Homo sapiens: one gene and its partners. The protein of the gene in region 2 purifies or fractionates together with the protein of the main gene of each other region. This does not show direct contact. Each region holds a gene or a part of one and is shown on either strand. Other genes may lie near its edges.

Region 1 (4,823 bases), about 73 Mb from region 2:
TACCTCCAAACCATGTGAAGCCACATGGATAGGATACAGACTGTTTGCAAAACTGCAAAATAAGCATCATGGATAAGGTCTCAAAGAAGTGCTCTGAATGGGTTAAATAATGAGCTGAATTTGTGGTGTTCTTTACTTATTAGAAATAGTGGGAATCGTCTAATACAAGTGCATAAGCTTCCATTTAGATCTAAGTGGAAAACTGTAAAATGGTTAAGTTAGAAATACTGGCTCTAGAGTTTAATAAAAGTTTTACAACCTTTACTTGCTATTCATTCTCACTCCTAGATGATAAAGTGTAGTAGTCAGTTAAAGATGAATTAGATCAATAAAGCATTAACGACACGCTACTAAATCCATAAAGTCTACATGAAGCATATGATAAGTGGAAGGAGACACGTCTTCATTCTCACTAACTGTTCACACACAATCCAATAGGATAAAATGCTAAGTTCAGTTCAATCCAACAAAACTTTATTCAGTAGCCATTATTTGCCAGGTGGTATACTAGTTTTGGGTAAAGCAAAGATGGAAAAAAAAATGGCCCCTGCCCTTGAAGAGCTTATATTTAAACTTTGAAGAGCTTATAATATAGTAAAAAAGACAAACATATAAACAGATCATTTTAATACAATGTTAAAAGTATACAAGGATGTTATGGAAGCACAAAAAAATCATTTAACCCAACTTTTGGGGACCAATACCAAATTCCTGAAAAAGATAATATGCTAGTCGAGGCCTGAAAGATGAGTAACAATCATCCAGACTAAAGGAAAGGAGCAGGATTCTAAGCAGGGTACAGCACGAGCATAAACCACTCACTCACAACATAGTTTCTACCTTTAAACCTTTATACTGATCTCTGTTACCTCATCCCACAAATTTATTACCAGAATGTCCTTTCTTTCTTCATTTTACCTATTTTAAAAATCATCTTATTAAGGTCCTGTTCAAGCCATACTTCCTATAGGATACGATGACCATTCCAAAATGATTATGAGTTATAAAGAAATCCTGCAGCATGTATAGTCCATATTGCAAAATGTTATACTTATGTAAACACTGATACTATGCTCTAATTGTTTAATGTGTATTATCTTTGATAGTTACCAGCTCTATTATCTAAATCTTTATTATCACGGAATCAGAGAATTCTACATGTTATACATAATTAGTGATAAAAGTAGAGGCACTTGTGGGATAAGAAGACAGAGAATTATGGTTTTCTTTTATACATACCATTCTCAGCTTTCAGCTCCTCCAGCTCTATAGAACTAAGGAGCAAGGCTCCCTTTTCATTCTCTAGTTCTACCACTCTCTTCTGCAAAGAAGCAATATTCTCCTCAGTGACTGCCTAAATTGTAGAAAGACAACAAATTAATGATTCTCCAGCAGAAAATTCTCACACTAACGCCCAGATAGCCTCCAGCATTTTTGTCTTCTAGAAGTTCTCCAGCCATGAAAATACTTTAAAAATAACATCTACTTATCTGCCTAGGTAATCTTTGAAGAAAAGTGTTTTATCTAAAGATTTAGAAAAAGAAATAAAATATTTCACACAAATATCAAGTTCATTGGCTTTTAAATTTAAGATTGAAGCCTGGATTACAAAGATAGAAATCCCAAGTCTATAGCATAAGAAAGAACATTTTCAGGTTCACAAACAAATAGTATTACAAGATTAGATTAATGTCACCAAGTAACATGGTCTCTCTCCTGAAGGAGAATGAACATGAAGAGAGGTTCCACAAAGAGGAATAGAGGCAAAGGAATATGTACCTCTTAAGAAAGGAAGAAGATTTATAAAATTGTTTTTTGTTTTCCAAGTATAATAAAAATTCCCTTGGCTTAATTTATACATCCAGAATTTTTGGTTTTCCTAAGGATAGGCATATATCTAATTATGTCACATCTTTAGTTTTATGTCTTTGTATATATTTTTTATTCTCCATGGATATTATTCTATAAAATTTTCATACAATTGTAGAATTTTTAAGCCATGAGGGTCTTTACAGCATATTTGACCCCGAAATCTTCATTCAATGTTTAAAATAAATAGCATGGGATGAATTTAGGGTTTTTATGGCTTTTATCTTGAGGGAAGTTCCCAGTTTGCAGTATGCAGGGCAAGTAAAATTCCAATAGAATAGCCACAGATATTTCTGGCTTGAAGAATGAGAAGAGTTTGGGACAAACATAGCTGCCAGGATGTGAGGAGGGAGATCAGAGAGAAGAAAAAGAGTTAGGAAGGAGGAGCCCTGAATTCTGTGTATAAACTTAGCTGAAATTTCTGACTGAACAATGGCACAATGTATTTGTTGGACTGACTTAAAGCAGCCCAGCTAAGGCAAAAATAACTGAACTGAGTTTTGATGCCTCTCTATCATAGGCCAGAGTTTGGGGTTTGAGTCCAACTTACTGTCTGATAAAAAGTAATTGAAATTTTAGAAATAACAAAATAAAATCTTGAGAACAAAACACGACATCCAGAATTCAAAACAAAACCATTCACACATAAAGAAATAGGAAAGAGTGACCCATTCTCAAGGAAAAAAAATATAATCAACAGATTCTAGCCATAAAATGATGCAGATTTTGTAAGTAGCAAACAAGAATTTTAATAAAGAAGCTATTATATCTATGCTTAGGACATAAATGAATATGCTCATAATGAATGAGAAGAAAGGAAATCTTAGTAAAACAAACAAAAAAAAATAATGAACCAGTTTGAAATTCCAGAACTAATAAACATAATATCTGAAATGAAAATTTCAATGTGATAGGCTTGACAGTAGAATATAGACGACAGAAGAAAGTCTTGGTGAATTGAGGATGATAAATCAACTGAAATTATCCAATCTGAAGACAGAAGAATAAAAAAAATTGAAAAAAAAAATGAATACAACCTCAGGGACATGTGGGACAATATTAAAAGGTTCAATATACGTGTAATTGGAGTACCAGAAGAGACGAGGGACAGAATGGGAAGAAAAAATATTTTAAGAAATGGCCAAAAATTTCTCAAACATAACGTTATATACGTAAGAAACTCAACAAAAGCAAGCAAGAAAATGACAAAGAAAACTATAACTAAGTACTTCATAGACAAGGATAAAAGGAAAGTCTTAAAATTTCCATGGAAAAATGATACTTTACATACAGAGAAACAATAATTCGAATGACTACTGACCAATTGTTAGGGAAAAAATATAGGCCAGAAGAGGGAAACACCTTCTTTAAAGTACTGAAAGAAAGGCTGGACACAGTGGCTCACGCCTATAATCCCAGCAGTTTGGGAGGGCGAGGCAGGTGGATCATCTGAGGTTGGGAGTTCAAGACCAGCTTGACCAACATGGAGAAACTCCGTCTCTACTAAAATACAAAATTAGCCAGGCGTGGTGACTCACGCCTGTAATCCCAGCTACTCAGGAGGCTGAGGCAGGAGAATTGCTTGAACCCAGGAGGCACAGGTTGCGGTGAGCCAAGACTGTGCTATTGCACTCCAGCCTGGGTGACAAGAGTGAAACTCCATCTCAAAAAAAAAAAAAAAAAAAGTTCTGAAAGAAAAATTGTCAATCGAGAATTATAATATCCAGTAGCAAATATCATTCAAGAATAAAAGTAAAATAAAGACATTTTTAGATAAGAAAAAAACTAAGAAAATTTTTTCACAGACAGACCTATACTATAATATTATAGGTTGTTGTAGAGGCTGAAGAAAACAGTATCAAATAGATATCTGATCATCAGAGAGGAAAGGGCATTACAAATGGTAAATATGTGGATAAATGTTAAGGTCAATATTTTCCTCTTAATGTCTTTCAAATATATATAACCATTTTAAGCACAAATATTAAAATTGTGTGCTGAGGCTTATTACTTTTGTTAATATAATACATACAACAACTGTGGCATCAGGAATAGGGTGAGGGTATATGATTATGAAGATTCTACCTTTTAAGTGAAGTAGTACAGTATTAACTCAAGAAGACTGAAAAATTATGGATATATGTTATACTTCCTAGAATAACCACTTAAAAAATTTTTGTAAAAAGATACAGCTCAATACCCAATAGATGACTTTTGCTTCTGCTAAAGACTGAGTAACATGGAACAGATTTAACCTCCTACCTGAAACAATAACAACCAAAACCAGACAAAATAATAAATAATCATTTTCAGAATACTGGATATCAAGCAACAAAGGATAATTATCTCTGAGAGAGGCAGAAAACAAAGTGATCCCTAAAACTGACCAAGCTTCATGCCTTAAGAGAGTTTTCAGGCTGTGGTCCAAGAAGGGGGAACATAGGCTGAGCCTGGTAGACTCCCTAAGTTCATGAGACAGAGCTGACAGTCAAGAAAGAGCAAGATGGCTGCAGTTCGCAGAATAGAATACCAGATGGGAAAAAGTCACGTAAAGAGAAAACCCTGCAGATCTGCAAAGGGACTGAACAAGTGTTCAGTGAAGTACAGGGCAGGACATGAATGTGAGGAAAGCATCCAAGGCTATCTGAACTACCCCTACCTATCTGAAGAGATTAAAGAATAGCACTTGGTGCTCACACAAAACCCGGAAGTGTCAGTTATATAGCCAAATGTGAAAAAACACTTCTCAGGGCATTGAGTAGAATACTCAGCAAGGTCTTGCCTCAGGAGTATCGAATGACTGAGCACTGATTCGAACCCTCCTAACAAATCAAAGCAGCAGGATCTGAAAGGACCAAGTTTTTTTCAAAGAATTTAACTGAGTCGCATAAAAAAAGCTCCAAAATATGTTAACAAAACAAATATAGAAACAAAGGAGAATCACTTGAACCCCG
Region 2 (4,835 bases):
TGGTGATCCGTCGGCGGGCTGGGGTGCCTATGTGGTGATCTGTCAGCAGGCTGGGGTGTGATCTGTCTATGGGCCAGGGTGTGATCTGTTGGTGGGCTGCAGTGTGATCTGTCGGGCTGGGGTGTGATCTGTCCGCGGGCCGGGGTGGGATCTGTTGGTGGGCTGCGGTGGGACCTGTCAGCGGGCTGGGGTGTGATCTGTCAGCGGGCTGGGGTGTGATCTGTGGGTGGGCTGGGGTGCCTGTGCAGTGACAGTCTGCTGTGCACTGGGGGGTTGGAAGGTCGAGGCCACTGGTGACAGAGGGGAAGCTCCTGAGAGGTTTACTTAAAAGTAAATGAGGGATGTTGTTTGGCCTTTGCCCATTTTGACCAACCAGCTTATTGTTTTTTTCTTGCAACAACAAAATACACACATAGCTATAGACACATTTTAATTATAGAAAGGATTGCAGGGAAAATACCTTTATTATTGTGAGTCTAAAATTCTTTAGCCTTTAACTCACTTTTTTCCCGTTGAAATAATTGTTTTTTTAATGTGGTGTTTGAAACACCTATGTTTTTAGAAGTTGAAATACAGCAGAATAGATGCTCTTTTTATACATACGTGTGTGTGTAGGTATGTATCTATACACACGTGTGTACACTGATATACATACACATATATGTAATTTTAAAAATAGGATCGTATTAAACATATGATCTTACATTTTGCATTCTTTATTTAATAGCACATTCTAAGTATTTCCTGAGGCATTACATATTCTTCGAATAATGCCTCAAGTATTCTGTTATATGGATGAAGCATATTATTCATCTACCTATTCCATTCTTTTTTTTTTTTTTTTTTTTTTTTTTTTAAAGACAGACAGAGTCTTGCCCGGTCCCCCAGGCTGGAGTGTAGTGTCGTGATCTCAGCTCACTGCAGCCTCTGCCTCCTGGGTTTGAGTGATCCTCCCAGCTCAGCCTCCTGAATAGCTGGGCGTGCACCACCATGCCCAGCTAATTTTTGTATAGTTGTAGACACTGGGCCTTGCCATGTTGCCCAGGCTGGTCTTGAACTCCTGGGCTCAAGAGATCTGCCGGCCTCAGCCTCTGAAAGTGCTGGGATTACATGTGTGAGCCACCGCGCCTGGCCCCTCTTTTTCACATTTTAAGTTGCTTCCAATTTTCTTCTACTATAAAAAATGTGATAAACATATAGTATATGACTCTGTCCACATCTCTCACATTTTCTTACAGTCGACTTTAGACATAATGACCTTCATGAAGTTTTCATAAACATTATCAATAGCGTAATAAATCCCCCAATACAATGGCTGGTGCACAGCAGGCATTCAAGAATTGTTACCTATAAATAGGAAATCAAGTAGGTGAGAGAACAGACCAATTCTGTCACAGCAGAGGGCTGGGAAAGATATCTGCTCCACCTCTTCAGGGCAGGATGTAACTGGGCAGTCTAGGGTAAGAGGGATGAGAAGAAATGGGGATGCTTTTGCTCCCCAGTGCAGGTGGACCTGCCAATACCTAGAATGAAATGATTCCTTGCTTTGAACCAAACATGCCAATACTACCCTCTCTGACACCCTCTCAGATGTGCCCTCTCCTTGGTCCTTAGGATCTCCTGTAAGCACTCATCTTCATCAGGGGAGGTGGGGATTCCAATGGCATTGAGTACACACTTGATTCAGAGCCTTCATGCAGCTGAAACTGTGATCAGAGAACAAACAACATGAATCACCATGTTCTCAAAGATGATTTATTGGCTATCCTCACTCATGGGAAAAAGAAAAACGTAAATGAAATCAAAACAAAACAAGATGAAAATTGATACAAATGGACCCCTGGGGCTTTCACGTCTGCAGCCTACGTACAGGAGGCCCCATCAAAAGAAATGACGCTTTAATTTCTGCTAAGGTCTACGGTCTAACGTGGTATGATAAGGGGATTTTTTAAACAAAGAAACTAGAATGCTTACTAGCCCATGAGTGACATGTCTTCCAAGCCCACATGGTCACACTTGGGAATTGCTGGGTTCCTTTTTGGTTTTTTTTTTTTTTTTGAGATGGACGTCTCACTCTGTCGTCCAGGCTGGAGTGCAGTGGTGTGATCACAGCTCAGTGCAGTGAACTCCTGGACTCAAGCCACCCTCCCACTTCAGCCTCCCAAGTAGCCGGGACAACAAGCACAAGCCACCACACCTGGCTAATTTTTAAAATATTTTGTAGCGATGGGGGCCTCCCTGTGTTTCCCAGGCTGATCTCGACCTCCGAGGCTCAATCGATACCCCCACCTCGGTCTCCCAAAGTGTTGGGATTACAGGCTTGACGACTGTGCCCGGCCTGGGCTTTTTGGAATGAGTCTTCCTGGTCCCGACAGTTCTCCTGCATGTCCTTGTGGTGGCCAGTCTCTGTTCTTTGATGACGAATTTGCTTTCTGAGTAGAGTCTGGTCACCTGGAGCTGGTTTGGTGGAATAAAGGACAATGGGGTTCTAGGATGTAGCTGGGAGATACAAGCTGTGAGTACTCTAATAATGAGATAAGTTTTCTTATGCAGGCCCCAGTTGGTCCTGAAGTCCTTCCTCAAAGAGGCGATCCTGAAACCTACACCAAGTGACGTGAGCATCAGGAGAATGCGCGTGCAGCAGCCTCCCAGGGTGAGTATGTGATGGGCTGGCATTCGTTTGGAAGCTTAGATACTGGGCTGGTCATTAAAACCTTGGCTTACCTTACCCGTTTGGGGCTCGATGGGTGCTAAAGCAGTTCTGTTTGTACTTTCTCGAAAAATGGAAGGCTGTCAATTTAAATTAAATTTATATTGGTCCAAAAAAGGCCGGGTCTAAAGGATTTCCATTCCTCAGAGGCAGACAGCAAGGGGGACCCTTTCTCCCCTTCCTTCTCTTCAAGTGCTTGCTTCCCAGCCCACTGGACATGCGTGTCCTTTGTGTCGCCTGCTCCCTGGAGGAATAAGGTCCCAAGCACCAGCAGTGCACAGGCCAGTCCTTGGCGGGTGGCCTCAGCACAGTGACCTGCCCGGCAGGAGGTCTCAGCACCTTAATCACAGGACTTCCCTGCGGTGTCTCTCTAGCGGGTCAGACACTGCCCTTGGGTCTGTCCCAAGGAACCCTGTCCTTCCCCCAGATCTGGAGGCCCCGGGGGCAAGGCACGGGGAGCGCCTAGTCCTCCGGGATGGGAGTGTTGCAGTTCCCGTGGTAGATCTTGACGTGGCCCTCACACCTGAAATAGGCCTCGAAGACGTCACTGTAGCCATGGTCCCTCCACCAGGTGCACAGCTGCCGGTTCCAGGTACAGTCCAGCACATGGAAGAGCTTGGGGTGCTCCATGCCGATCATGGTGAAGAAGTCCTGGTCCCCGAGGTGGCCGCGGAAGTGGTACTTGTCGGCCAGCTGCTGCACCTGCGCCGGCTCCAGCAGGCGGCTGTAGAGCGGGGACTGGCGCATGGCCTCCAGGTTCAGCAACATCACCCCGCTGTTGAAGCCCGGCAGCCCCTCGGGGGGCGGGCCCCCAACCCGGGTCTGGGGGTTCTCATGGCGGAACTGCCAGAATGTGTGCCTGTGGAGAGAGAGGACAGAGTTAGTCCGGTGTGCAGGGGAACCAGCCTGCCGGCCTGCTGCCCTGGGTCTTCACAGCCAGCCTGCATGCAAACACTGCCACATTCCGGGGTGCAGAATCCGCATCACTACACCAGCAAGTGGCAGAGCTGGGACCTGAACCCAGGGCTCTGGACCCCAAGCCTCAGATTCTTTCTACCATCCTCTGCTACGTCCTCACCACAGCCAACATTGATATTATTGACTGAGGATGTACCAGGCGCCATACTAGACCGGCTTACTTACTCCCCACACAACCCCAGGGGATGGGTGCTCTGAGATGATACATCATTTCACAGCCAAGAAAACGGACGCACAGAGAGGTCAAGGTATTTGCCCAAAGTCACACACCTAGTAAGCAGCAGACGCAGGGACTAAACCCAGACAATCTGGCTCCAAAGTCCACATTCTTAAGATAGCAGCAATCTAGGTAGAACTTTCCACCCCCTTGTCTTCACCTGTGATCTTGAAAAGGAGAAGGGAGAGAGAAGCAGGGGACACAATCCTGAACAGAGATCTCATCAAGACGCAGGCAGCTGAACCCTGACTGGAACAGAACTGTTTTCTGCTTTAGAACAAGGCTCATTCATTGAGCCCCAAGCCTGGCACTTCAGAAAGGCTGGGCAGGGGCTGGGGGCCTGCGACAGCCCAGGGCACACCATGGGTTAGGGTGAAAGACAGCTGTAGAAGAGCCATGTAGGATGATGTCTACTTTAGAAGGAATGTCACTTCAAGTTCAATTTTTCTCTCAGCAGATTTAGAAACCAATCTAGGTTCATAGTTCAGGGAGTGTTAGCCTCTTCTAGGTCCTCTACCCAAATGCTTCCATCTGGAGGGGAGAAGAAAGACCTAGACACCTCCCTGTGAGGGCCAGGGTTAAAGCGCTGCACTGTCCTCCAGCCTCTTTAATAGCTAAGCCTCATGTGTGCTGCAAGGGGTGTGCAGGTGGAGGGGAGAGGCGTCCAAGCCCACACCCACAGAGGAGGGGCCACAGCAATCGTGCCGGTGACCTGGAGGAAGGAGGACCATCAGGAGGCCCACTGTGGCAGGGACAGGCGTGGGAGTGGGTCCTCACGGGGAGGACACATCGTGGCAGAACCAGCTCTGCCTCCCAGCCTGGAGATGCTGCCCCACCGGCCCCCGCAGAGAGACTTCCCCACCCAAACCCAGGATAGGATCTGCGTGATGAAGCAGAAGGTACGGGGGAATAAAACCGGAGACCCTGCCC
Region 3 (4,823 bases), on a different chromosome or scaffold from region 2:
TACTATGAATACTTTAGAAAACAGAAACAGAGTATCAACATAAGAAATGAAAAGAGATTACAGGTATCAGAAATCTTGCAAAATTTGCTAGAGGGAATTAAAACAATCCTTAGAGGGAATTTTGTTATTATTATTATTATTATTATTATTATTATTATTATTATCATCACTATTTTTAATAGAGCTTTGCTCTGTCACCCAGGCTGGAGTGCAGTGGTATCATCACAGCTCACTGAAACCCCAAATCCCCAGGCTCAAGGAATCCTCCCACCTCAGCATCCCAAGTGGCTAGGATCACAGGCATGAGCCACCACATCCAGCTAACTTTTAAAATTTTTTTTGTAGTGACAGCATCTCACTATGTTACCCAATCTGGACTTGAACTCCTGGCCACAAGTGATCCTCCCACCTCAGCCTTTCAAAGTGCTGGGATTATAGACATGAGCCACCAAGCATGGCTGTAAAGTAATTACTGAGTGCTTATATTTAGAAAGTAGACCCCGGATGGGTGTGGCGGCTCACATCCATAATCCCAGCACTTTCGGAGGCCAAGGTGGGTAGACTGCTTGAATCCAGGAGTTTGAGACAAGCCTGGGCAACATGGCGAAACCCCGTCTCTCCAAAAAATACAAAAATTAGCCAGACATGGTGGCTAATGCCTGTAGTCTCAGCTACTTGGGAGGCTGAGGCAGGAGGACTGTTTGAGCTTAGAATGTGGAGGTTGCAGTGAGCCAAGATTGCATCAGTGCACTCCAGCCTGGGTGACAGAGCAAGACCTTGTCTCAAAAAAAAAAAAAAAAAAAGTAGAAAGGTCTAAAATTAATTATCTAAATTTCCACCTTAAAAAGGTAAAGGGTAAATTAAACCCAAAGTAAGGTGAAGGTAGGAAATAATAAAGATGAGACAGAAATCAATGAAATAGAAAACAAAAAAAAGAGAAAAATCGATAAAACAAAAAGATGGTTCTTTAAAAAGAGCAAAATAACTCAAGCCAGGTGATAAAATAAAAAACAGAGAAAAAAGAATTACAAATATCAAGGATGAAGAAGGACACATCACTATGGATGACACAAACAGTAAGGAGATGACAGACTAGAGGCAGGGGTAAGGATTAACTGCAAATGGGCTCAAGAGAATTTGCGGGATGATAGAAATTTGGAGGGGGGCCTAACATTGGACTGTAGTGATGGGCCTATAAACTTACTAGAAATTATTTAATCACACACTTACAAAGGGTGAATTGTGTGGTATATACCTTTGTAGAGCTGTAAGAAAAAGGATAAGGAGTCAGCATGAACAACTCCAGGCACGTGAATGTGACAACTTAGATGAAATGGACATAGTCCTTCAAAGATACAAACTACCAAAGCTTACTCAAGAAGAACTAGATAATCTGAATGGCAATATGTCTATTAAAGAAACTAAATTTGTAGTTTAACACTTTTTCCACAAAGAAAACTGCAGGTGCAAACATTTACAGGCAAAATCTTACCAAATTTACACAAATTGTTTCATGAAATAGAAGCGGGAACTCTCCAACACATCCTATGTGACCATCACCATCCTAATACCAAACCCAGACCAAGGCAATATCAGAAAACTATAGGCGATTATTCCTTATGAACACAGATACAAATAATTTTAACAAAATTTTAGCACATGCAATCCAAACAATACATCACAATCAGTGGGGTTTATTCCAGGAATGCAATGGTCAGCTTAACTTTTAAAAAGTCAATCACTGTAATTTACCGTATTAACACACTGAAGAAGAAAAGCCTTATGATCAACACAACAGATGCAAAAAAAAATTTATAAATTCAAATCCACTCGATCAAAACTCTATGCAGGCTGACTTCAGCAAAAACTACAGAAAAAGGACCTTTGAAAATCCTATCCTCCATAAAATCAACAAGAATATTGGCAAAAATTGTCAGAATAAACTTTTTCAGAATTCTAGAAATTAAAGACTTGCAGCAATATAGGGATCATTTATTCAAGAAAAATGTATGAATCTCAGTAAGAACAGCAATTGTCGTGGGGGTTTAGTTTACCCTATCCCTCTTCCCCAGCTCTGTGGTAGACTTGAAAATCAATAGCCCCCATCACAGTGAAAACCAGCAGCATGGCAGCCACTAGAGGGGGAAAGCCCCATTTCTGGAAAATGTCACTATTTGACCTGTCTTGTGGTTCCTTGGAAGACCCTACTTGTAAAACTGTCTTTAATTGACCTGACTCAGAGCTTGCACAGTGGGAACAGTATTTTCCCGGAGGGCATTTGTCCAAACAATCAGAAGTACTTATTTACCATCACAGCTACTTGAGATGGAAGATAACAGGGTAAACAACAGGCTAACCAAAACACTTAAAAGGCAAAAATGGAGAACAAGATACCCATAGAGAGCTCTGAAAAGTTGTGACATGTTCCTGAGACTCTAGGAGGCCACGCACATGTGCAGGGCTGTATACCGGCTAAGGAAAGACCTTAAGTGCTCATGTCTAGCTAACCTTCAGTCTCTGTGGAAGCAGGACAAACTGTGGCTGAATGTTGAAGACATGTCCTGACACACACAGAGTCCCTCAGCAAAGACTAGGAGACTTACTGGTTCCAGGAATTTAAGGAAACCTTTGTCTAATTGTTAGACTACTAAGCTAACCAAGCAGAGACCTCGCTGGTTGCACATGACAAAGAATACAATGCAGAATTAGTTTATTAAAGTCACTAAGCAAACAACAACAACAATAAACCCTGGCAAAAGGGAGAAATCTGATTTCCAGAGTTGCCCCATTATATTACTTAAAATGTCCAGTTTTCAAAAAAATATACAAGACATGCAACGAAAAGAAAGTATGACCTATACACACAGGAAAAAAGTAGTCAGTACAAACTGTCCCTGAGGAAGTCCAGATGTTGGACTTACTAATTAAATCATCTATTTAAAGTATGTTCAAAAAACGAAAGGAAACTATGCATAAAGAACTGAAGGAGTCCAGGTGCAGTCGTTCATGCCTAGAATTCCACTGCTTTGGAGGCCAAGGCAAGAAAATCATTTGAACCCAGCAGTTCAAGACCACCCTTGGCAACACTGCAAGACTCTGTCTCTTCAAAAAATTTAAAAATTAGCTGGGCATAGTGGTGTGTGCCTGTAGTCCCAGCTACTGGGGAGGCTGAGGCAGGAGGATCACTTGAGCCCAGGAGCTGCAGGCTGCAGTGAGCTACGATCTCACCACTGCACTCCAGCCTGGAGACTCCGTCTCTAAGAGAAAGAAAGAAAAAAAGAACTAAAGGAAAGTATGAGAACGATGTTTCAGTACATAGAGAATATCAATGAAGAGATAGAAAGTATAGAAAAGGGCCGGGCATGATGGCTCATGCCTGTAATCCCAATACTATGAGCGACAGAGGCAGGCAGATTGCTTGAGCCAAGTTCGAGACCAGCCTGAGCAACATGGCGAAACCTGATTTCTACAAAAGAATAGAAACAATTAGCCAGGTGCAGTGGTGCACACCTGTAGTCCCAGCTATTTGGGAGGCTGAGGTGGGAGGACAGCTTGAGCCCAGGAGGCAGAGGTTGTAGTGAGCCCAGATTGCACCACTGCACTCCAGCCTGGGTGACAGAGTGAGACTCATTCTCCAAAAAGAAAGAAGTTCTGGATTAAAATGAAAATGATTTGAGTTGGAAGACGGAGCAATCAGCAAACCTAAAAACAGGTCGGCTGGGCACGGTGGCTCACACCTGTAATCCCAGCACTTTGGGAGGCCAAGGCAGGTGGATCACGAGGTCAGAAGATCGAGACCATCCTGGCCAACATGGTGAAACCCCGTCTCTACTAAAAATACAAAAATTAGCTGGACGTGGTGGCGCGTGCCTGTAATCCCAACTACTCGGGAAGCTGGAGCAGGAGAATCGCTTGAACCCGGGAGTCAGAGGTTGCAGTGGGCAGAAATTGCGCCACTGAACTCCAGCCTGGTGACAGAGCAAGACTCTGTCTCAAAAAAAAAAAAAAAAAAAAAAAAAACAAAGACAGGTCAATTGACATTGTCCAGCCTGAGGAACAGAAAGAAAATGGAACAGTCTCAAAGACCTGTGGGGTTCCATCAACTACACCAACATATACGCAATGGGAGCCTCCGAAAGAGAAGAGAGAGATAAGAGAGTAGACTTTTTTGAGAGAACAATAGCCAAAAACTTCCCAAATTTGATGTATACACATCCAAGAAACTCAATAAACTTCCAAGAGGATAAACTCAAACAGATCTACACACATCATAATAAAACCACCGAAAGACCAAGACAAAGAGAAAATCAAGCAAAAAAAAAAAAAAAAAAAAAAAAAAAAAGACTCATCACTTACATAGAACCCTAATAACATTAACGTCTGAATTCTCATTAGAATAATGGAGGCAAAAAGACAGTGCGATAATACGCTTTAAAATGCTCAAAGGAAAAAAAATGCCAATCAAGAATCCTATATTCAGCGGGTAGACATGTCGAGAACAGACCAGTGTGCTAAGGCGGGTGAGGAGCACTGAGTTAACCCCCAGCGTACTGGCGTGGGGACTGTGTGCGCTCACTGGACCCGCTACTGAACAGGTCACAGACGCTGGCCCCCTCAAAAGGCGCCAGAAAAGGACCCTTCTGGACCAGCCTGGATACACTGCCTGAGCTGCTCCTCTAGGGCGAGGGGTGACTCCCCTGTGCCAGGGGCAGCGGAGGAAATGGGAAAGTGGGATGCATAAGACTAGGTGGGTCCTCCCATAGGACATGGGTGACTGAAGAGTCACAGTGCAAGAAGACGTAAGAAGTTCAGACCCAGGCCGG

Evidence for each region.
Region 1: the proteins of XXYLT1 (region 2) and GOLGB1 purify together in Homo sapiens (co-immunoprecipitation; one large-scale study listed by IntAct). This does not show direct contact.
Region 3: the proteins of XXYLT1 (region 2) and CLYBL purify together in Homo sapiens (affinity purification with mass spectrometry; one large-scale study listed by BioGRID and IntAct). This does not show direct contact.

What each region holds. Positions count from the first base shown.
Region 1 is NC_000003.12:121,701,242-121,706,064, forward strand, and holds part of GOLGB1 (golgin subfamily B member 1), read right to left. Parts: intron 1,355-4,823; coding exon 1,240-1,354; intron 1-1,239. UniProt on the Homo sapiens protein: May participate in forming intercisternal cross-bridges of the Golgi complex.
Region 2 is NC_000003.12:195,066,543-195,071,377, forward strand, and holds the end of XXYLT1 (xyloside xylosyltransferase 1), read right to left. Parts: intron 3,570-4,835; coding exon 3,173-3,569; 3' UTR 1,742-3,172; downstream 1-1,741. UniProt on the Homo sapiens protein: Alpha-1,3-xylosyltransferase, which elongates the O-linked xylose-glucose disaccharide attached to EGF-like repeats in the extracellular domain of target proteins by catalyzing the addition of the second xylose.
Region 3 is NC_000013.11:99,608,367-99,613,189, reverse strand, and holds part of CLYBL (citramalyl-CoA lyase, mitochondrial isoform 1 precursor), read right to left. Parts: intron 1-4,823. UniProt on the Homo sapiens protein: Mitochondrial citramalyl-CoA lyase indirectly involved in the vitamin B12 metabolism. Converts citramalyl-CoA into acetyl-CoA and pyruvate in the C5-dicarboxylate catabolism pathway.